Linked DNA regions of Homo sapiens. The protein of the gene in region 7 purifies or fractionates together with the protein of the main gene of each other region. This does not show direct contact. Each region holds a gene or a part of one and is shown on either strand. Other genes may lie near its edges. The genes, in order: GMPPA, ACAD9, ETFB, GPI, TIMM21, CGRRF1 and EYA2.

Region 1 (2,800 bases), on a different chromosome or scaffold from region 7:
CGCCCCATCTAAGGCCTCCTCTGCTCATAGCCATTTCTCACTCCCACCCGTGTCTCTGCTTCCCTCTCCATCTCTCCTGGCCTCTCTGTCTCTGTCTCTGCTGAGCTGGCATCTCTACCATCTCTCTCTCCCTTTCTTTCTGTGACTGTCTCTGCCCTCACCAGCTGCCTTGCTCTGGGGTGAGTCTGTCTGTGTTTCATTCCATCCAATGAGGGGGAGGGTAACTTGGAGGGGGTAAAGGGCTGAATGGGGATGAGAATGTGAAAATGGGGGGAACTCCTTATGGAAATGGGGCAGGGATGGGAAGCAGGCCTCTGCCTGGGGCTCCCTTGTGATAGCACCCACCCAAGTGGGGGCTGGGTGGGAGAGGTTCCTGGGATGTGAGCAGCCACATCCCAGAGAGGGCCGAACCAGACCTGGAGAGAGGGGCTTAGAGAGGTGGTGGGAATCCTCCTACTCCTGTCCCTGGGAGACTGTGTTAGCCCCACAGTCGGGGCTCAGCTGGGGGACTAATGTCAGCATTCTTCCTCTCTGCCAGGGAGGACTCACCAGGCTTGTGGCCAGGGGCAGGTACCATCCGCCTAGAGCAGGATGTGTTTTCAGCCCTGGCAGGGCAGGGCCAGATATACGTGCATCTCACTGATGGTATCTGGAGTCAGATCAAGTCCGCAGGGTATGGAAGGCTGGGTCCCCTGGGGATTGAAATTTTGGGGTGGTGGGCACAGGCCCTGCTGACCCCTGAGCCCCTGTCCCCCTTGCGGTCCCCAGTTCAGCCCTCTACGCCTCCCGCCTCTACCTGAGCCGATACCAGGACACTCACCCAGAACGGCTGGCCAAGCACACCCCAGGGGGCCCATGGATCCGAGGTACCCAGCCTGCCCCAATTCCTAACCTTTGGCTTCCACCCCAGCCCTCTGAACCAGGATTCTTGACCTCGAGTCCAGAGTTAAAGCCTCAATCCCTGCCCCTTCCTGATCAAATTCGGTTTGGGATATTTGCCCCCAGGGCCTCTCTTCTGCTTCTAGGGAATGTGTACATCCACCCGACCGCCAAGGTGGCCCCCTCGGCTGTGGTGAGCACTGGTCCCAGCCCCAGGGAGGGAAGGGTGGTGGTCGGATGGATGGAGGGTGCCCACGCTGCCTGAGTTCTGGGTGCCGGTTTCTTCACTTTGTCACAGCCTATTGTGTGTCCTCGAGCAGGTCACTTATGCCTTATCTGTTCTAGAAGGGAGTTGGGTTTGGGGATCCTCCAAGTCCCTCCAGGGCTTATGGTGTGTGCTTCTCTCCACAGCTGGGCCCCAACGTCTCCATCGGGAAGGGGGTGACCGTGGGTGAGGGTGTGCGGCTCCGGGAGAGCATCGTCCTCCATGGAGCCACTTTGCAGGTAGGTACCAGCATACACAGCAGCATGTGACACCCCAAGAGGCTGCGGGGAGGGCCCAGGCATCCCCCCAAGAACAGAGAAGGGTGAACGCCGTGGGCTCTGCATCTGGCCACACCTCACACCCTCCGGTTCCTGCTGCCTCCTGCCTCTTCCCCTTACCTTTCACTGTCCTCTTTGGCAGGAGCACACGTGTGTTCTGCATAGCATCGTGGGCTGGGGGAGCACCGTGGGACGCTGGGCCCGCGTGGAGGGTACCCCCAGTGACCCTAACCCCAACGATCCCCGAGCCCGCATGGACAGTGAGAGCCTCTTCAAGGACGGGAAGCTGCTGCCTGCTATCACCATCCTGGGTATGGCTTCCTGGGGGCCAGGGCTGGGGGAACCCCTCAGCTGATGGCCAGTGGCCCCGGGGAGCATTCGTTCCTCTGTGTGCACGCGTGTTTCTTCTTTTAGCAAACAGTTACCAAGGGCCTGCTGTGTGCCAGGCCCTGTGTGAGTCACCGGGGGCATGAGACCAGGGGCACAGATGGGCAGGAGGGCTCCCTCCCTGCTGGCAGTGGCCCCCAGCTCCCTGCCCCTGTCTCCCCTCCCATGACCTCCCCTGGTGCCCTCATCCATGCTGCAGGCTGCCGAGTCCGGATCCCTGCCGAGGTGCTCATCCTGAACTCGATTGTTCTGCCACACAAGGAGCTGAGCCGAAGCTTCACCAACCAGATCATCCTCTGAGTAGGGCTGCCAGAAGGCCCCCAGCTCCTACCCACTCCCCTTGAGGCTGCTGCCTGCTTGGCCAGCCTCTGTCCAGAAAGGACCAGAGAAAGCCAGGCTGGATCGTCACATGCCGGGGAGCAATGTGGATGGCCTGGGGACTCCTGGGTTTTCTCCCTCCCGACTCCCTAATAAACCCCGTGAACCTTGGAGCCAGCACAGACTGTACTTATGTCTGGGCTGGGGGTGGGGGCGGAAGCGGGGCAGCTGAGTCAGGCCCCCCCACATTAGCATTTAAATTGGAGTCGTTGCTGTGGGCTCATGAATAATGAATCTGGAGCCCTGGTAAATCTCCCCCTCCCACTGCCTCAGCCTCGTGCTGCTCGGGAGGAAGGCCCTCTAGGCTCCCCTGCCAGCCTGGTCCCCCCCTTCACCCCTGCCTCCCTGCCTCCCTGTTCCTCCTCACCGGGCCTGGCTCAGGCCCCCATGTGCAAGGATTCCGAAGGGAAGGGTGAAGGATTTTGGTTGGGCAGCAGGCAGAGGAACTGGGGCCACAGGCCTAGAGGCTGATCCCCACAGCCCGCTCTGCTCGGTTCCCGCTGAGCCCAGCCCTGGCCGGTTTTCCGCTTTGCCAGCTCCATCTGCTCCCAGCTTGGCTTTTGGCAGGGTGGGGGTTTTGCCTCTGCCCGAGGCCTCATGTCTCTGTCTTCTA
Region 2 (3,500 bases), on a different chromosome or scaffold from region 7:
GAACTGCTGCAGGGATGGGTGGGAAGTTGAGTGGGTGGGATTTGGGTGCCTGTTTTCCCTATCAGCAGTCTCAGTCAGAGCCGCCTGCTTCTGTCTGTTTTACATATTTGGTTTCTGCACTAGATTTCTTTGAATAACAGGTTCCACTTTTTTAGATAATTTACAAACTGTTTATTGCAATTGAACTCTCCTCCCCTAAGGCATTGACCTGATTTGATAACATCAGGATCTTTCTCCCACGCCCCTGCAATCTCTCCTGTGTGGCAGGTTTTCTGTGGTTGTACCTGAAGGCCAATTAGTTGCCAGGCAGTCTTATCTGGCCTGCCCACTGGTACCAGAATGATCTCTAACACAGCCCATTGCACAAGACCCAAGTGTCAGTGAGCCTCTGTGTTCAGTGAAGGAGACTGAGCTTTGATATAAAAGGCTGCAGAGTGATGGAGCCATCAGCTTGTTTTTTTTTTTTTTTCTTGTTTTTTTTTTCCTTGAGACAGTGTCTTACTCTGTTGCCCACCCTGGAGTGCAGTGGTGCAATCACAGCTCACTGCAGCCTCAACCTCCCCAGGCTCAGGGGATCCTCCCACCTCAGCCTCCTGAGTAGCTGGAACTACAGGCGTGTGCAACCACGCCCAGGCTGGTTTTGAACTCCTGGGCTTTAAGCAATCCCCCTGCGTCAGCTTCCCAAAGGACTAGGATTACAGGCAGTAGCCACTGCAACCAGCTAAGCTTGTTTTTTTCTTTTTCTTTTCTTTTTTTTTTATGGAGTCTCACTCTGTCACCTAGGCTGGAGTGCAATGGCGCAATCTCGGCTCACTGCAACCTCCACCTCCCGGGTTCAAGCAATTCTCCTGCCTCAGCCTCCTGAGTAGCTGGGATTACAGGCGCGTGCTACCAAGCCCGTGTAATTTTTGTATTTTTAGTAGAAACGGGGTTTCACCATGTTGGTCAGGCTGGTCTCAAACTCCTGACCTCGTGATCCGCCCGCCTCGGCCTCCCAAAGTGCTGGGATTACAGGCGTGAGCCACCGTGCCTGGCCTCCAACCTTTTTTTTTTTCTATACCACCTTCAGGGTGGTTTTGGAATGGATGGAGGCAGGGATTCCTTTAAGTTGGCTGTCACTTTTAGTTAGGGACTCACCTATAAGCCTGTGGTCCTGGGCCCAGAGAGGAGAAAGCAGTGCGAGCATATTGATAGAGTAGAGAAATCTGTTGGCTGATTAGCTGTACAAGGTCTGAGGAGAAGGTTGAGGTCTCCCCAAGACTTCTCTAGAACACTTGGTGAGAGGCGCCATGAGGACAGGTGATGCTTGGGCTTATAGCTCTGACTCAGGACATCACTGCTCAACAGCCTGAAGCCCACATCCAAAGCTCATGTCATGCTGGCAATTGAAGGGGTAGCAGAGCCCAAAAGTCCAGAGGGGCTCAGCACAGGGAGCAGATGTCTGTGAGCAGGAGAGACAGCGGCTGTAGGGATCGATGAGACTTGGTAAGCATGATGTGCTCTTGTCAGCATAGCATCTTTGAGCTCACACAATAATTGATGTAGAATTGTCCATTTCAGTAAGGAGTTTCCACATCCACTATCTTCCACGATTCTCACAAGGGCCTTGAGTAAATATTACCTGCATGTTATGGGTGAGAAAGGGGTAGTTTAGAGAGCTGAAGGGATTTGGTGAAGGCCACATAATGAGTAAGCCTGAAATCAAGGACCAGACCCCCAGGCTTCTAAATGTTAGTCTTGGGCTCCTTGTTTCATGGGACTATTATCATCCCTTGTACTGAGAAGGAAAACTGATGAAAATCGGGAAGAACCTATTTGAACAGGGGAGGGAGATGGATGTGGGTGGTGGAGCCTGCACATAGTTTCTGTATCTCAGGAACCTTGTGAGGTTTGCTTTCCAGTTCCTTCAGTACGTCATGTCCCGCTGGCCAGGGTGGAGTGGAGCACATGTTTTTCCTTCCCTTTTAACTGATATTTCCGTGATGGGAGTGTGCTAAAAATTAAATTTTTTAGAAAATATTTACTATTTTTAGAAAGAAGTTTTCCCATTTCCAGAAGTTAGCCAAGATGAACTTAATGAAATCAATCAGTTCTTGGGACCCGTGGAAAAATTCTTCACTGAAGAGGGTATGTATGGTTTTCTTTACCATTGCCGATTTCCATTGTAAGGGCTATTTGGTTGATATTTATATTAGAAGTGACATACATAGGAGAAGTCTTCTTGAGGGAGAAATGGTTTCCACTCATAATATTTTGCTTTAGGTTTCATCCCTATTGCCATTTAATTAAAAAACATCCAGTTAAATGCTTCTCATTGTATTTGTGGTTCAGGAGCACTTTAAACATTTCCATACTGTTCCAGGTCAACACTTCCATAAAGCTATAATAAAAATGAATAACTAAAAAAATTAGATGGCAAAAAGCCAAGGCCACACACCATACAAGCCCATGGAGCATGTGTTGGTTGTTGTGGCAGTGTACAGTTGCTCTTAGTGTTTCTAAAGGTTGAGTTTCAATTTCTGTACTTTGGTAATTGTAAACAAAGAGTGATTTGTGGACCAGCCACAGTTTGGCACCTGCATGGTGAGGCAGCATTTGACCTCAGGTCCCTCTCTCAGAGCTGTTGGCCGGTCCTCCAGCCAGGGCCTTGGTGGAGAGTTCAGTGATGGTGGATGGACAGCAGGTCTTCCCTAATAGTAGGATCCTGGAGAGCTTTTGTTTATATGAATTTTATCTATCAATATTTGCCATCTTAGGGGTTATTTTATTTTTATTTTACTTTATTTTTTTGAGAAAGGGCCTAGCTCTGTTGCTCAGACTGGAGTGTGGTGGTACCATCTCATCTCACCACCACCTCCATCTTTCAGGCTCAAACAGTCCCCCAACTTCAGCCTCCTGAGTTGCTGGAACTACAGGTGCGCACCCCCATGCCCAGCTAATTTTTTTGTATTTTTCATAGAGACAGGTTCTCACTATATTGCCCAGGCTGGTCTCTACTCCTAGGCTCAAGTGATCCTCCCACCTTGGCCTCCCAAAGGGCTGGGATTACAGGTGTGAGCCACCATGCCTAGCCCCTCTTAGAAATTAAAACTGAGAAATTTAAAATATACTGTGGGGCTGGGTGCAGTGGCTCACGCCTGTAATCCCAGCACTTTGGGAGGCCAACGGGGACAGATCACCTGAGGTCTGGAGTTCAAGACCAGCGTAGCCAACATGGTGAAACCCTGTCTCTACTAAAAATACAAAAATTGGCCGGGCATGGTGGCGGGTGCCTGTAATCCCGGCTATTCAGGAGGCTGAAGCAGGCGAATTGCTTGAACCCAGGAGGCAGAGATTGTAGTGAGCCAACATTGCACCACTGCACTCCAGCCTGGGTGACAGAGTGTGACTTTGTCTAAAAAAAAAAAATAAAATATACTGTGTTCATTTGTTTAAAAATAATAAATCCATTACATGTTAACATAATATTTTTAATGAAAAATATTTTGTTTTTGTTTTTC
Region 3 (3,500 bases), on a different chromosome or scaffold from region 7:
TATGGTGTGTGTGTAGGCAGGGTCAGTATTGGTCACTGACCCTTACACTGCAGTGGCATTTGTGAAATAGGTCAGGGTCACTGGTCACGTTGTCTAAGGTGTTATCCGAGCTCGTTTCACAACCAAGAGAATTAAAGAGCATAGACCACCCAAAAGGTGAGGTTGGAGCGAAAGTTTAATAAGCAAAAGAAGAAAGCTCTCCACAGAGGAGAGGGAAGCCCAAGCGGGTTGCCATTTTTACAGTTGATTCCAAAAGCTTTTTTTTTAAAAAATTATTTATTTATTTATTTTTTATTATTATACTTTAAGTTTTAGGATACATGTGCACAACGTACAGGTTTGTTACATGTGTTTATATGTGCCATGTTGGTGTGCTGCACCCAGTAACTCGTCCTTTAGCATTAGGTATATCTCCTAATGCTATCCCTCCCCCCTCCCCCCACCCCACGACAGTCCCCGGTGTGTGATGTTCCCCTTCCTGTGTCCATGTGTTCTCATTGTTCAATTCCCACCTATGAGTGAGAACATGCGTTGTTTGGTTTTCTGTCCTTGCGATAGTTTGCTGAGAATGATGGTTTCCAGCTTCATCCATGTCCCTACAAAGGACATGAACTCATCATTGTTTATGGCTGCATAGTATTCCATGGTGTATATGTGCCACATTTTCTTAATCCAGTCTATCATTGTTGGACATTTGGGTTGGTTCCAAGTCTTTACTATTGTGAATAGTGCCGCAATAAACATATGTGTGCATGTGTCTTTATAGCAGCATGATTTATAATCCTTTGGGTATATACCCAGTAATAGGATGGCTGGGTCAAATGGTATTTCTAGTTCTAGATCCCTGAGGAATCACCACACCGACTTCCACAATGGTTGAACTAGTTTACAGTCCCACCAACAGTGTAAAAGTGTTCCTTTTTCTCCACATCCTCTCCAGCACCTGTTCTTTCCTGACTTTTTAATGATCGCCGTTCTAACTGGTGTGAGACGGTATCTCATTGTGATTTTGATTTGCATTTCTCTGATGGCCAGTGATGATGAGCATTTTTCATGTGTTTTTTGGCTGCATAAATGTCTTCTTTTGAGAAGTGTCTATTCATATCCTTCGCCCACTTTTTGATGGGGTTGTTTGTTTTTTTCTTGTACATTTGTTTGAGTTCATTGTAGATTCTGGATATTAGCCATTTGTCAGATGAGTAGGCTGCAAAAATTTTCTCCCATTCTGTAGGTTGCCTGTTCACTCTGATGGTTAAACTAAAGAGCTTCTGCACAGCAAAAGACACCAAAAGCTTTTATAAGAAACTCCTTTCATCTCTGTAGCTGTTTGAGTATCTTATCTGTAAAGCTATCTGCATAACTCTCCGTTATCTATGTAGTTGTGGGTACGTCTTTAGGCAAGCACAAAGCTCCGCTTCTCTTGTTTCTGTAACCGTGGGTTTGTTTTAGGTAAGCTCCGCCCCTCCCCGTGCAAGTTCCCACAGAGACCACCATGTACGTGCCTGAAAAGGGGAGGGAACTTTTCCTGGGAGCCTGTCAGTCACGCAAAGAACAAAAGGCTTCTGTGCTGGGCAGCTTGAGTTTTCCCCAGGCTGCTCTATTGTTGCCTGTAGCTGTGATTTTTCAGGCAGGCTGCTCCTCTGAGGACCACCCTTAACTGTCTACCTAACTGGTTTTTCCTTTTCTTCTCCTCATTTGTATTTATGTATCAGTGTATTATGTATTTATATACACTTGGAGATACAGTAAAATGTACCTCTCACTGTGGGTTACCATAAATACTGTAAATTTGAGAAACACTCTTTCAGGCCTGAGAGGAGCAGTGACAACAGTAGGGATGATCAAGTCAGATGTCCCTGGTACCCAGGAATGGCTGGATGAGAGAAGGAGACAGGGTGACCTGCCCCTGCCTACAAACTCTAACCCAGTTCTGTCCCTGGAGCTGTGTGACCCCGGACAAGGCCCTGCCCCTTTCCAGGCTGTCGTTGTCCTCATCCAGCCTGGGAGAGGGTTGGCGCTGAGGCCCCCACCTTCTTGCCTGTTTCCTCCTGACCCCACCCCTTCCCCTCCTGCTGGGCAGATCCGAGTGAAGCCTGACAGGACCGGTGTGGTCACGGATGGTGTGAAGCACTCCATGAACCCCTTCTGTGAGATCGCGGTGGAGGAGGCTGTGCGGCTCAAGGAGAAGAAGCTGGTGAAGGAGGTCATCGCCGTCAGCTGTGGGCCTGCACAGTGCCAGGTGATGAAGGTCTTGGGGAGGGGGCTGGACTCCTGGGTCTGACGGAGGAGGGGCTGGGACCTGGACTCCTGGGTCTGAGGGAGGAGGAGGCTGGAAGTCTGGACCCCTGGGTCTGAGGGAGGATGGGCTGATAGCCTGGATTCCTGGGTCTGAGGAAGAAGGGGATGGGGGCCTGGACTCCTGGGTCTGAGGAAGGAGGGGCTGGGGGCCTGGACTCTTGGGTCTGAGGAAGGAGGGGATGGGGCCCTGGACTCCTGGGTCTGAGGAAGAAGGGGATGGGGGCCTGGATTCCTGGGTCTGAGGAAGGAGGGGATGGGGCCCTGGACTCCTGGGTCTGAGGAAGGAGGGGCTGGGACCTGGACTCCTGGGTCTGAGGGAGGAGGAGGCTGGAAGTCTGGACCCCTGGGTCTGAGGGAGGATGGGCTGATAGCCTGGATTCCTGGGTCTGAGGAAGGAGGGGATGGGGGCCTGGACTCCTGGGTCTGAAGAAGGAGGGGATGGGGGCCCGGACTCCTGGGTCTGAGGAAGGAGGGGATGGGGGCCCGGACTCCTGGGTCTGAGGAAGGAGGGGATGGGGGCCCGGACTCCTGGGTCTGAGGAAGGAGGGGATGGGGGCCCGGACTCCTGGGTCTGAGGAAGGAGGGGATGGGGGCCCGGACTCCTGGGTCTGAGGAAGGAGGGGATGGGGGCCCGGACTCCTGGGTCTGAGGAAGGAGGGGATGGGGGCCTGGACTCCTGGGTCTGAGGAAGGAGGGGATGGGGCCCTGGACTCCTGGGTCTGAGGAAGGAGGGGCTGCGAGCCAGACTCCTAGGTCCCCCTGAGGATAGCAGCCAAGTCAAGCCCCTCTGTCCTTGGCAGGAGACGATTCGTACCGCCCTGGCCATGGGTGCAGACCGAGGTATCCACGTGGAGGTGCCCCCAGCAGAAGCAGAACGCTTGGGTCCCCTGCAGGTGGCTCGGGTCCTGGCCAAGCTGGCAGAGAAGGAGAAGGTGGACCTGGTGCTGCTGGGCAAACAGGTAGCTGTGGTCAGCCCTCCCTGTGCCCCCTTGCTCATCCCTGCTCGGGAGGAGGGTGGTGGAGATACGGGGTGAGACAGCAGCTGGCCAGGCCCAGGGCATTCACCACTCCAGGCTGAGCAGCTTGGGACTTTGCTGACCCTTCTGACAGAGAGTTTGAGCAGGGAGGACAGAGTCCCTCTGGGTGTTAGAAAGATCCTCTTGGGCCAGGCACGGTGGTTTACGCCTGTAATCTCAGCACTT
Region 4 (3,500 bases), on a different chromosome or scaffold from region 7:
CACAGTGCCTGCATCACACCCTGCACTGCACCCCTGCACCCTGGGCTTCACAGTCAGAGCCCTCCTCACACCACTGCTGAGCTCAGGCAAGTGCACAAGGAAAGCTGTGGCTCACTGCTCGGCTCCAGCAGAGGTGGTCCCATGGACCACCTGTTGCTACAGAGGGGTCGGCAGCCCTGTCACTCAAGGCAGGGTTTGCTCTGCAAGCTGCCCCAGCCTGGCGCCTCCTCTACGCCACCCCCCCAGCTCCTCCTGCAGCTCCTGTTGCTCCTTTCCAGGCCTACCCGGTCATACCTCATGCCTCACCCTGCCCTTGGCCTTTACAGATGGTGGCTGCAGTTCAGAGAAAGGTCATCACTGAGAATAACTCACAACCTCAACTCTGTGAGCGTGGCAAGGGGGACTCGGGTTACCCCACAGTGGGTGTTGCAGGCAGGCACCCAAGGGAGTGTCATGTGGCCCTGCAAGCTCAGCCCGCCCTCAGGTGGAAGTGGAGCCCTCATCCTGCCTGGGTTGCTCTTGCCCTCCAAGCCTCTCTGAGGGCCTCTCTACCTTTCCCCAAGCTAGGTATGCAGCAGGTACTCAATAAACACTGACCTGACCTCATGGGCCTCTCAACAGCCATGACTTGGCAAAGGACACTTAATTCACCCAGTGCAGAAGTGCTTGTACTTACATCCCAGAACTCGAACATGTTTTGAGGGTCAATTCCAAACTCCTTCACTTTGGTCTACAAAAAAAAAAACAAAGGGAGAGAAATGCAAAGAAGCATTTGCTAGCGGGATGGGAACAGGAGCTCCGGGAGGCAGGGAGCTGTGCTCCGTGAGCTGAGCCTCACCTTCCCCAGAGCCAGGGATGGGGCAGGGCTGGAGCAGCCTGTGAGTCGAGGGCAGGGCCCAGGATCTGCCCACCCCAAGCTGGACACCAGATCAGTCCATGACCAGCACGCCAGTGACGTTGTGCCTGCAAAGCCCCCTGCTGAGGGCAGCTGTAACCCCGTGTGAGGACCTGGCCCACACACTGCTCTGCAACAGCTCTCACCCAGGCCTGCCTGGGACACCAGAGCATGATACCCCTGGACATCTGGGAACCGAACCTAGGACTGGGACCCAAGTGTGGGCAGGGGCCACCTACCAGGCCAGGCAAACAAACACAGGCTGAACAGCCACCCAGCCCTTCCCATGTGTGGGAGGGTGACTGCACCAGGAAGCTCTGAGGAGCCATCAGGTATTCTGGTCCCCAGGGCAGACAGGGCCAGCAATTCCTTACCTATTCCACATAGGAGGAGAAGCCCTACTGACCAGTCAGTTGCAGGCAGGCAACAGTGCTATGGTTAGCCAGCCTTATGGCGTCCTGCTGCAGCTGGGTAGGCACTGGAGGCAGAGATGTGGGGATGATGGTGGAGGGGGTGGGAGGGAGATGTGGGTGTAGTCCCCAGCTCTGACACAGCACAGTGCCCACTGGCTGACTGCTGCTGTCACTCCTGGAGCATCCCTCACTCTGTCATGCCCTGCTGAGCCTGCACAACCTCGAGGCCAGGCAGACTGTGAGAACTTGGAGACAGGAGACCCAGGTTCTAATCCTGGCATCACCTACTCATACAGTCACTAAGTGGGCCGGGTACAGTGGCTCATGCCTATAATCCCAACACTTTGGTAGGCCGAGGTGGGCAGATCACTTGAGGTCAAGAATTCGAGACCAGCCTGGCCACCATGGAGAAAACCTGTCTCTACCAAAAATACAAAAATTACCTGGACGTGGTAGTGGGCGCCTGTAATCCCAGAATCAGCAGGCTGAGGCATAAAAATTACTTGAACCCAGAAGGCAGAGGTTGCAGTGAGCCAAGATCGTACCACTGCACTCTAGCCTGAGTGACAGAGTGACCTTGTCTCAAAAAATAAGCTGGACATGGTGGCACACACCTGTAATCCCAGCACTTTGGGAGGCTGAGGTGGGCAGATCACTTAAGGTCAGGAGTCAGAGACCAGCCTGGCCAACGTGGTGAAACCCCGTCTCTACTAAAAATACGAAAATAGCTGGGCATGGTGGCGTGCACCTGTAATCCCAGCTACTCGGGAGGCTAAGGCAGGAGAATCGCTTGAACCTGGAAGGCAGAGGTTGCAGTGAGCCAAGATCACGCCACTGCACTCCAGCCTGGGCAACAGAGTGAGACTGTCTTAAAAAAAAAAAAAAAAAAAAAAAAAACAAAACCACACACACTAAGTAGGGGGCAAAATGTCACCTCCCTTCATTGGGGCTTTATGTCCTTAAGTGAAAAATGGAATGCATCCTCTACCCCTACCTAGCATGTCACATTTGGGGAGATGCTGGGCACAAAGGCCTAGGAAGGTCATGTGTATGAAGGGTTCTGTGTATCAGTCAGGCCTGGGAGACGGAAGAAGGGGTTATCGTGATCCCACTGACTCCAAGCCTCCCTCCTCAAAGCTGCAGAGGTTGAATGGGTAAATGCGGAAAAGGCAAGGAAGGCTTGCAGCCCACAGGCAACCAAACCTTCCATACCATCAGCCAAGCCAAGATCCACCAGACCTACGAACCGCGTCTCTGAGAGGCCATGACCTGGACATGCTGGGCACTCCCAGGAAGGCAGTACAGGGGACCACGGGGGCACTTACTGTGTTAGTAGACAGGGCAACAAAGTGCTTCGCCACTGCAGAAGGCTACAAGAGACAGAGCCAAGTTACCACAGCCAGCCCAGGGAGACAAAGGGTAGTCACTTCCCATCACTAGAGGAACCAAGGCCCTGCATGGGACTGAGATTCCCAGTCCTTGGTTCTGAGACTGTTGGAGAAGGCCCACATCGAGGTCAAGGTCAAGAAAGCAGACGGGTCACAGGCCGCCTGCTCATCCCATCTTACAAGCATACGGGGCTCAGGGACGTCCCTCCCCTATAAAATAGGTGTGGCCAAGAGTTCCTGCAGCGCCAAGGGCCTGCAGAGAAAGGGCCATGCAAGGGCTGTCAGCCAGCGAGAGCAGGTTCTGTCACATCTGCAAGGCTGGGTCTGACAAAGCCAAGATGAACAATCATCTCATCTAGCAAAGGCAGGCACCGGCAAGGCCGCCTTCACTTCCAACTTCAGGAGAAACACGGCCAGACTTGGTCACTCAGGGGCCCACCCTGCTCTTCCCAGCCCAGAGGCTAACCACGAGGAAGGCCCTATAGCCCACTCACATCCTTGGCCGCCTGGAGAAACCACTCCTTCGCCGTCTCTGCATTCGTGATGGTCTCCTGGGTAGTAAAGGTCTGCAACCAAAGAGAACAGCAGTGGGCGCCCGAGCTTAGGGGTGGGTGCAGGCCTTGAGCCAGGGTTCAGCAGTAGAGGCCAAGGCAATGCCCAGCTGTCCCATGGAGCAGTATTTGCAGGTCAGTGACAGTGACGCCACATAACCTCCTGAGATTCCAGCTCTTTAAAACCAGAGGAGGGGGGACGGTAAACACACCCCCCAACCCTAAGCCTGCAGGTCAAAGGCCGCAGCTTCTC
Region 5 (3,500 bases), on a different chromosome or scaffold from region 7:
ACACACAGACCCCTTGCTTTGATCTGGAGGCTGCTTTTCTCTCGCAAGAAGTGCAAAAGCAGCAGACAAGCTTGCCTGCTCCCAGCCGGCACCCGTAACCCATTGGTGTTTTCTCTTCACAGTGAAAGAAGCCGGAAGAGATTTTACCTATTTAATAGTGGTGCTTTTTGGAATCAGCATTACAGGTTGCAAAAAACAGCAAGTATAAGCCCTTGAATATTTTTTAAACTGGACTTTTTATGTTGCCCTTGCTTCGCTTCATCTTTGTTTTCTGTGATTTCAGGTGGCTTGTTTTACACGATTTTCAAAGAACTTTTTTCTTCATCCAGTCCTAGCAAGATATATGGGAGAGCCTTAGAAAAATGCAGATCACATCCTGAGGTTAGTTCTCAAGATTGAGTTACATGAACTCTGATGAGGGGGAGAAAATGTCTGGGAGGAGGAAGTGGGCAGAATTCAAGAACCAGTTCTCACGCTAGTGAAATTCACATAATAATACATAATGGTCGAGTCATCATTACATTATTAGGTCTTTGCTCTTTAAGAGAACCCAAAAGTCAGTGTACAGATGTTTTCATGCTAATTGTACAAGACAGTCATTTTGCTGGTTGTTCATAGATACTAAATTTTTAGAATACACCAAAATATTGAACTCATGGTAAGTTTCTAGTCTTTTTAAAGCCTGATGCATGACCTCATGGTCATAATGTCATTGCTGACACTTACCGAAAATGTGTCCGTGCAAGCACTCTGCCCAGGGTCTCAGTGCATCATCTTTATTCAGTCTCACAAAAACCATTTGTGTTCGGCACTACTTTGTCTTCAGTTTGCAGAAGGGGAGACTGACACTTAAAGAGATTAAGTAACTTCACCAGGATCACTGAGCTAGTAAGTGGGGGAACCGGAACCCGAATCCACACAAATCCAAAATTTGCTTCCAAATCTAAGCTCTTAAGCACAGTCTGCCTCTACCCTTCCCTGGGAGGAGTGGACATGGGGAAGCTGCCTTGGTTCTTTGAAGGACCCTGTCAAGAAGGAAGGCTTTAGATGTGACCTTCCAGTCACACGTAGCCGGTGTGGCCTGGGAAGTGTCAGATTTCTTACTCCCTGCTGCAGACCTTCAGCACTGAAAATATTACTCATTGAAATACAACTTCATTCACCCTGAAAGATAACAGCAGGTAATCGTCTGCCATTATCATCATAAATATTAGGGCTGTTCTTCACACAGACCAAGGAGTAATGTCATAGCTCGCATTTGCAGCCCCTGAAGAGGAGAAAGATTTCAATCCACAGCGTGCTCAGTATAGAGCCCGGTGCTGATCTTCCCTGGGGCCCCGGCTCTGAATGTTCTACCAGTTTTCTAATCATGTCAGGGTGGAAACCTCAGAAGCTAACGATCTCTGGCATCTTTCCTTTTAAATCCACTGATTTCTCTTCATTGAGCTCTGGACAGCCAGTGGTAACCATGGAGAAAGGCAGGGAGGATAAAGTATCTCAGAGGTGAAAACCAGGAAATAAGGAAGGTTCGTTCCCATAATAGTTACTGGGAATCCAAATTTTATCTGACAAGAAACATTCTTTACAGACTCCGGAAATACCTGTGGGTGGTAACCTCATTAAATGTTAGGACGCATCTCTGGAAAGAGATGAAGAGTTGCTGTTTTATTCGCAAACTCAGCCTTTCGTAGATTTTTCAGCATTTTGAACAAAAAACTCCACAAGAATATACAAAAGTGGGATATTATTGAAGTCGTAACTTCATTTGCTGCCTGAAAAAACTCTACAAATAATAATTAAACTTTAACAATTTTGTCAACATTTTTTAAGGGGTACCCTTCTCTTTGCTGGGTACTGTGTCTGCTTGAAAAACAAAATCTTGATGGATGTTGATATTTATATGTTTAATAGATTAAAGTAAATTGTTCTATTTGTTTGTGCTATACAATTCTGCAATATCATCTTACATATTACTTCTTTTTATCCTGGAAAATGTGATACTGAAGATACTCCACAAACAGACAAAATAAGATAAATTTCGTAGAGTTGAGGGTCAAACTTTTTTAGTTTAATATCAAATTTATATTTTTTAGAGGGTTCCACAGTATTTGCATTTTGAATTCAATAAAAACTACATTTCTACTTCATGTGGATTTTCTCATTAGAAATAGTAGATTCACACCTGTAGCTCTGATTTATTTTAAATGTCATTATCTGTTTTCTTTTTCCTCACTGTGTTTGGTAACTTTAAAAATTTTTTGATCTCATAGTTTTAGTATTAGATGCTATTAATTAATTACATTTCATTAAAAATGTTCATACATTTTATCTTCAAACCATAAGGGGTTAGTAGAGAAACATCTGAACTCTGTGTTGTTATGTTTGTTTTCTGTAAGAGGAGCAGGAACTGCGTCATGTCAACCTACATTGCTTTGAAACTACAAGTCACACCATAAAGCTACCTATTTTAATCTTTGTGCATGAAATATTTGTTTAAATTATTTATGGGATGATTTTTGTATAATAACCCTTTTTTCAGTTTTCTTATTGGAGTGGTCATTTTTTTATTTGTTTGTTTGTTTGTTTGTTTTGAGACGGAGTCTCGCTCTGTCACCCAGGCTGGAGTTCAGTGGCACGATCTTGGCTCACTGCAGCCTCTGCCTACTGGGTTCAAGCGATTCTCCTGCCTCAGCTTCCTGAGTAGCTGGGACTACAGATGCGCATCACCATGCCCAGCTGATTTTTATATTTTTTAGTAGAGACGGGGTTTCACCTAGTTGGCCAGGCTAGTCTTGAACTCCTGACCTTGTGATCCACCCATCTTGGCCTCCCAGATTGCTGGGATTATAGGCGTGAGCCAGGAGTGGTCATTTTTGAAAAGGTCCTAAGCTTACTGATTTTTTTTTCCTAAAATCATCTGGTTTGTTAAAAATTATTTCTTTAGAAGCTTAAAAAAATAACACAAAATAAAGCACTGTCCTTGTTCTGCAGGTGATCGGTGTCTTTGGTGAGTCTGTTAAAGGCTATGGGGAGGTGACAAGGCGGGGTCGCCGGCAGCATGTCAGGTACTGTGGCTTGAATTCAGAGGAGGCTCTGGGGAGATTTTTAAATGAAAGGAACTTAGACTGATCTTTCGTTTTCTCGACAGGTTCACTGAATATGTAAAAGATGGGCTGAAACACACGTGTGTGAAATTCTACATTGAGGGCTCTGAGCCAGGGAAGCAAGGAACGGTGTATGCGCAAGTGAAAGAGGTGTGGGAATCATGGGATGTGGGGTCAGAGGTTCTGAGCGCGGTGTTATTTAAGTTCTGGAAAGGAAAATAATACCTGGAAACACTACATTTTTTTCAGAACCCAGGAAGTGGTGAATATGATTTTCGATATATATTTGTAGAAATTGAATCTTATCCTAGAAGAACTATTATCATTGAAGATAATCGATCCCAAGATGATTAAAATAGGGTTTCTGATGGATGTTGAATGGCGTGGACTCGCTAC
Region 6 (3,500 bases), on a different chromosome or scaffold from region 7:
GACCATATAGGAACCATTAGAATTGTAAAGAAAGAGATGCTTAAATTTGTTAAGGTGAAGAGGCATATTCAGGAAAGCCTTCATAAAAAAGAATATGCTGAGTCTCTCTTACTTTTTTTTTCTTTATTCCTTCCTCCTTTTTTTTTTTTGAGTAGAATCTTGGAAGATAGGTGTTTACTTCGTGGATGAGAAATGGAGTGATACATTAAAGAAACAGTAGTTATGGCTAAAGCATAGGATGGGACAGGTAACAGAGGAGTCTAAGAAGACTCAGGTTCTTCCTATGGGTCCTCCATAGCCAGATCCTGTTAGAAAAATGAGGAGTACAGAAAGAATAGCAAGTTTCCAAAGAAAGGCAATGAATTCAATTTTGAACTTTTGGACTTTGAAATTCTTTCGTGACAGTTCAATAGAAATAAAGAGTAGGCAGTCCTAGATACAGTTCTGTAGCTTTTTTTCTGGGCCGAGACCCTGTCCCTTCTATACTTGCTTACATTTCTGGTTTCTTGAAAACAAATAAGCCAGATCTTTCTCTGCTTTTCATCCTAGTCTAGCTACTGCCGTATTTCTCTTCTTCCCCTCACAGCCAGCTTCTTAGAAGCTGTTTGCATTTTCCTTCTCTTAGCCTGCTTCATTTTTACTCCTCAGTGCAGTGCAGTCTGACTTTTCCCTGTATCCCTTTACTGAAATGGCTTTCTCTGAGGTCACTAATTACGACTTCTGCCCTGCACTTTTGACCCCCAGCAGTCATCAAATCCAGTGGGAGCCTTTCAGGGCTGAGTTAATGCTCTCTCTCTAGTATTTTACAGAGTTGACCTTCATTTGCAACGTCCTGCTCCCTTGCGTCTATGGACCATTCTTGTCTATTCATCTTTCCTGCCTCTAACTCTCAGAATCTAATAACTGGTCAGAAATCAGTTTACTTAGTCAAATAGATCATCAGGCTTAAGTAAATCTTGATTTGTAAGGAAAAATATATGTTTTTTTTTTTTTTTTTCGAGACAGGCTCTTGCTCTTCCACCCAGGCTGGAATGCAGTAGTATGATCATACCTCACTGCAGCCCCAATACCCTGGGCTCAAGTGGTCCTCCTGCCTCAGCCCCCTGAGTAGCTGGGACTACAGGTGTGCATGACCGTGCCTGGCTAAATAAAAAAAAAAATGTTTTTTGTGGAGATGGGGTCTTGCTGTGTTGCCCAGGCTGGTCTCAAACTTCTGGCCTCAAGCAGTCCTTCTGCCCCAGGCTCACAAAGTGCTGGGATTACAGGCGTGACCCACTGTTCTTGGCCCCAAAAAGTACAAAATTTCTTATTCATCCTCTTTAGCTGTAAATACTATTACCCTATGAATTGATGGAAACTAGGATCTCGGCCACTCCCCTCCCCGCTCCTTCCCTATAATAGATAACAGTTCATTCTGATATTTTTTACTTGAGAAAACCAAATTTTGAGATATGACACAGATAAAACTAATTTGTTTAAAAGATAGTAGGTTGTGCATGCCTGATTAAAGTGTACACCCAGCTACCAGCTACTCGGGAGGATGAGGTGGGAGGATTGCTTGAGTCCAGGAGGTCGAGGTTGCAGTAAGCCGTGATCACACCACTTCACTTCAGCCTGGGTGACAGAGTGAGACTCTGTCTCAAAAAATAAAATAAAAAATCAAGTGTACAGCATAGTGGTGGTTCAATAACCTCCCACCTCTGTGGCCATAGGCTAGAACCTGCTACAATGTCACATCTGGCTCTTGAGCAGGACCCGCAATGAAAAACCTACCAGCTGCAAGGCCTTCCTTCCTGCAGTACAGTTCCACAGGTCTGAAAATACACTGAAAAACTAAGAAGAGCTGATACATTGTGAGCAAAACACAGGGCACTTGTGAGGCAGAAAGTGTGAGGAAATCCATCAATCTGCTTTTCAGGCAGAAATAGTCACAAATAGAACCAGCCTTGCGAATGTTTGAGGCAAATGAAAAGATAGCCAGTAAGTAGCCCTCTTAGCTATGCCTGCACACTAGTTGCTAACCAACAGTAGTATTACTGAAGTCATGAAAAATTATTTAAATGTGTGGATGTACAGCATGAATACTGAAATATTTTAATTTTTAAAATACCGATGCATATCATTTATTATCTTTCTCCTATGGGGAAATAGAAGGATTTTGATAGGAGTTATACTCAACAGAGTAAAATTCATTTGTTTAAACTGTGGAAAAGTGGGTATCATTAAAGATGTCTATACAGAACATTAAAATAATATTGTAACAATATTTGTGACATTTAAAAAAGTTATTTCATTTGATGTGTAGATAGTTTAAAAATCTTTTTTTCACCACTGTACCCAAACTGCCTGACATATAGCAGAAGAGGGTGAATAATCTAGAGACCTGATTTAACTTGAAAATAAACCAGAGGCTGCACGTGGTGGCTCATGCTTGTAATCCCAGTACTCTGGGAGGCTGAGACGGGCGGATCCTTGAGTCCAGGAGTTCAAGACCAGCCTGGCCAACATGGCGAAACCTCATCTCTACTAAAAATACAAAAATTAGCTGGGCGTGGTGGCACATGCCTGTTAGTGCCGGCTACTCAGGAGGCTTAGGCTGGAGGATTGCTTAAGTCTGGGAGGTTGAGGCTGCAGTGAGCTGAGATCATGCCACTGCACTCCAGCCTGGGCAACAGAGTGAGACCCTGTCTCAAAAAACAAAAACAAAAAAACACACATGCTTTTTATTTATATTTAAGATTTTTTTTTTTTTTTTTTTTTTTGAGACGGAGTCTCGCTCTGTCGCCCAGGCTAGAGTGCAGTGGTGCAATCTTGGCTCACTGCAACGTCTGCCTCCCAGGTTCAAGCAATTCTCCTCCCTTAGCCTCCTGAGTAGCAGGGACTACAGGTGCATGCCACCATGCCCAGCTAATTTTTTGTATTTTTAGTAGAGACAGGGTTTCACCGTGTTATCCAGGATGGTCTCAATCTCTTGACCTCATGATCTGCCCACCTCGGCCTCCCAAAGTGCTGGGATTACAAGTGTGAGCCACTGCGCCCTGGCCATATTTTAAAATTTATAATTAAAAAAAAAAGAAAACCAGAGAATCGATTTTAATCTGAGTCATTTAGTTCTGTTTACTAGGGGTGGGTTGCTGGGATTTTTTTGTTGTTGTTATTATGTAATGATATATTTGGATTTGCGTTTCCATGTCTCCAATATAGAGTCTTTAATGAAATTGAAAGTTAGATACTCAGTGTATATAAGTTGAGTTGAATTAATTTGATTCAGGAATTCTGCTTTTTGTAAATAGCTTCCTTATATTTTAGCTTATTCACTCTGGTAAGAGCTAACATTAAAGCAAAAGGGTTAGAAAAAAACACAATGTACATGGCATGTTTGGAGGCGTTTGTGAACCTCCATTCTCTACAACCTAAAACTTTCATCTCCCAATACTCTGGCTTTATTATCCTCATGAATGGTCTCCTTGTTTTATTACTGCTTCTCTCACAGGGATCCT
Region 7 (2,251 bases):
CACAATGGCTCATGCCTGTAATCCCAACACTTTGGGAGGCTGAGGTGGGTGGATCGCTTGAGCCCAGTAGTTTGAGACCAGCCTGGTCACCATGGTGAAACCCTATCTCTACAAAAAATACAAAAATTAGCCAGATGTGGTGGCATGCATCTGTTGTCCCAGCTACCCGGGAGGCTAAGGTAGGAGGATCGCTTGAGCCTGGGAGGTTGAGGCTGCAGTGAGCAGAGATCATGTCACTGCACTCTAGCCTGTCTCAAAAGAAAGAAAGAAAGAAAAAAAAAACTCCACATCATGACAATAACTTGAAGCAGGTACCACCTGCTGCAAAGAAAAGGAAAAGATAAAAACGAAAGCTATAAAGAAAACAGATTAGTGTCATCTGACCTGGCTAGCTACAGTGGCCTGCTGAAGACTCTCCAAGACCAGCTCTGTTTGTTCACAGTGGAGACTGTCAATGCTGGGGAGGGGTTCCAGCACCGAGCTGTGACTTTCTTCTTGAAGTAACAGGATTCAGAGCACTGCAGCCTCCAATTCCCGGCCTCAAGCAATCCTCCCGCCTCAGCCTCCCAAAGTGCTGGGATTACAAACGTGGGCCACAGTGCCCAGGCAAGAACAAATTTTTAAAAAGGAATCGCTTTCCCATTGTGCAATTTAACACCATGTCAGTGCACCGCCTAAGACCACGCTGGTACCAACAGAGGCGAGAGGGTCAAACAGCGAACACGCTGGGCAGTGCTGGATAAGCCCGTCAGAGCAGGCTCTGAATAGAAATGGTTGGCCATACTGGTGGGTACTGGCCAGATGTGGGTCTGCCAGCAACATCAAGTGCCCCATAGTTTGGGAAGTCCCCACGTGCTAGACTTAACTGGGTTGACTTCTCACATGCCCTCTAACCACAGGCGTGGAACCCGGGGGCAGGGGCGGGGCCATAACCTTGTGGCTGGTGTTCTGTGTTTCAGCACAACATGCCTTTCTGGCGGATATCCTGCCACGCAGACCTGGAGGCACTGAGGCACGCCCTGGAGCTGGAGTATTTATAGCAGGATCAGCAGCATCTCCACCTGCCATCTCACCCTCAGACCCCCTCGCCTTCCCCACCTCCCCACCGAGAACTCCAGAGACCCAGATGTTGGACACCAGGAAGGGGCCCCACAGCCGAGACGACGTGTCCAGTGACCATCTCAGAAGCCGTCCATCAGTCCAAATGGGGGTTCTGAGAAGGAAAGTACCCAACATTGGCTTCGGAGTATTTGACTTTGGGGAAAAGGGCTGGCTCGGAGTCTAGACTCTTCTGTAAGACTCACAGAACAAAAGCAAGGAATTGCTGATTTGGGGGGTGCCTGGTGATGAGGAGGGGATGGGTTTGTCTTGTCTTCTTTTTAATTTATGGACTAGTCTCATTACTCCGGAATTATGCTCTTGTACCTGTGTGGCTGGGTTTCTTAGTCGTTGGTTTGGTTTGGTTTTTTGAACTGGTATGTGGGGTGGTTCACAGTTCTAATGTAAGCACTCTATTCTCCAAGTTGTGCTTTGTGGGGACAATCATTCTTTGAACATTAGAGAGGAAGGCAGTTCAAGCTGTTGAAAAGACTATTGCTTATTTTTGTTTTTAAAGACCTACTTGACGTCATGTGGACAGTGCACGTGCCTTACGCTACATCTTGTTTTCTAGGAAGAGGGGGATGCTGGGAAGGAATGGGTGCTTTGTGATGGATAAAAGGCATTAAATAAAACCACGTTTACATTTTGAAGTGGGGTAGGATGTGGTTACTTTATTACCACTCTTGAGGCTTCCAAATGTGTTGTCCTTTTTAAAGACTTTATCAGTTGCAGAAGAATAGAATCCAACTCACACTGGCTTAAGCCAAGAAAAATGGGGTGGGGGGAGGGAGGAAGGAGAAGAGGGAGAAAAGGAGGGAGGCAGAAAGGGAGGGGAAGAAGGACAAAGGGACAAGTGTCTCCAGGAACTTTAGGTGGTATCTGTCTGGATCCGGGTGGTCAAATGAATTTCTCTCATGTGGCCGTAATTCTCAGGCAGGCTGTTCCCTGTGTGGCAAAGACGGCTCTACGAGTCCTTCAGCAAAACCACACAGACAGAAAGAGACCACATTCTTCACCGTGGTGCAGCGAAAGCCTCAGGACTGTAACTCGTTGGCCAAATCTGAGGCTTAGGCAACTCACGGAGCTGGATTTAGGGTTGGATCCTGTCACGAACAGCAAGTTGAACAAGCTGATCCTCCAAGGGAAAGAA

The links.
Region 1: the proteins of EYA2 (region 7) and GMPPA purify together in Homo sapiens (affinity purification with mass spectrometry, with the first as the bait; one large-scale study listed by BioGRID). This does not show direct contact.
Region 2: the proteins of EYA2 (region 7) and ACAD9 purify together in Homo sapiens (affinity purification with mass spectrometry; 3 studies listed by BioGRID and IntAct, with this or other methods). This does not show direct contact.
Region 3: the proteins of EYA2 (region 7) and ETFB purify together in Homo sapiens (affinity purification with mass spectrometry, with the first as the bait; one large-scale study listed by BioGRID). This does not show direct contact.
Region 4: the proteins of EYA2 (region 7) and GPI purify together in Homo sapiens (affinity purification with mass spectrometry; one large-scale study listed by BioGRID and IntAct). This does not show direct contact.
Region 5: the proteins of EYA2 (region 7) and TIMM21 purify together in Homo sapiens (affinity purification with mass spectrometry, with the first as the bait; one large-scale study listed by BioGRID). This does not show direct contact.
Region 6: the proteins of EYA2 (region 7) and CGRRF1 purify together in Homo sapiens (affinity purification with mass spectrometry, with the first as the bait; one large-scale study listed by BioGRID). This does not show direct contact.

The regions. Positions count from the first base shown.
Region 1 is NC_000002.12:219,504,690-219,507,489, forward strand, and holds the end of GMPPA (mannose-1-phosphate guanylyltransferase regulatory subunit alpha), read left to right. Parts: intron 1-164; coding exon of another isoform or gene 165-179; intron 180-538; coding exon 539-673; intron 674-768; coding exon 769-866; coding exon of another isoform or gene 867-1,025; coding exon 1,026-1,072; intron 1,073-1,290; coding exon 1,291-1,383; intron 1,384-1,564; coding exon 1,565-1,733; intron 1,734-2,008; coding exon 2,009-2,109; 3' UTR 2,110-2,300; downstream 2,301-2,800. UniProt on the Homo sapiens protein: Regulatory subunit of the GMPPA-GMPPB mannose-1-phosphate guanylyltransferase complex; reduces the catalytic activity of GMPPB when part of the complex. Mediates allosteric feedback inhibition of GMPPB catalytic activity upon binding GDP-alpha-D-mannose.
Region 2 is NC_000003.12:128,882,620-128,886,119, forward strand, and holds part of ACAD9 (complex I assembly factor ACAD9, mitochondrial), read left to right. Parts: intron 1-2,033; coding exon 2,034-2,127; intron 2,128-3,500. UniProt on the Homo sapiens protein: As part of the MCIA complex, primarily participates in the assembly of the mitochondrial complex I and therefore plays a role in oxidative phosphorylation.
Region 3 is NC_000019.10:51,352,889-51,356,388, reverse strand, and holds part of ETFB (electron transfer flavoprotein subunit beta), read left to right. Parts: intron 1-1,546; exon of another isoform or gene 1,547-1,750; coding exon of another isoform or gene 1,751-2,080; coding exon 2,081-2,239; intron 2,240-3,098; coding exon 3,099-3,257; intron 3,258-3,500. UniProt on the Homo sapiens protein: Heterodimeric electron transfer flavoprotein that accepts electrons from several mitochondrial dehydrogenases, including acyl-CoA dehydrogenases, glutaryl-CoA and sarcosine dehydrogenase.
Region 4 is NC_000019.10:34,378,696-34,382,195, reverse strand, and holds part of GPI (glucose-6-phosphate isomerase), read right to left. Parts: intron 3,263-3,500; coding exon 3,191-3,262; intron 2,679-3,190; coding exon 2,634-2,678; intron 731-2,633; coding exon 677-730; intron 1-676. UniProt on the Homo sapiens protein: In the cytoplasm, catalyzes the conversion of glucose-6-phosphate to fructose-6-phosphate, the second step in glycolysis, and the reverse reaction during gluconeogenesis.
Region 5 is NC_000018.10:74,155,023-74,158,522, forward strand, and holds part of TIMM21 (mitochondrial import inner membrane translocase subunit Tim21 precursor), read left to right. Parts: intron 1-122; coding exon 123-185; coding exon of another isoform or gene 186-202; intron 203-283; coding exon 284-381; intron 382-2,991; coding exon 2,992-3,065; intron 3,066-3,148; coding exon 3,149-3,254; intron 3,255-3,353; coding exon 3,354-3,458; 3' UTR 3,459-3,500. UniProt on the Homo sapiens protein: Participates in the translocation of transit peptide-containing proteins across the mitochondrial inner membrane.
Region 6 is NC_000014.9:54,523,406-54,526,905, forward strand, and holds part of CGRRF1 (cell growth regulator with RING finger domain protein 1), read left to right. Parts: intron 1-3,500. UniProt on the Homo sapiens protein: Able to inhibit growth in several cell lines.
Region 7 is NC_000020.11:47,187,094-47,189,344, forward strand, and holds the end of EYA2 (protein phosphatase EYA2), read left to right. Parts: intron 1-959; coding exon 960-1,040; 3' UTR 1,041-1,751; downstream 1,752-2,251. UniProt on the Homo sapiens protein: Functions both as protein phosphatase and as transcriptional coactivator for SIX1, and probably also for SIX2, SIX4 and SIX5.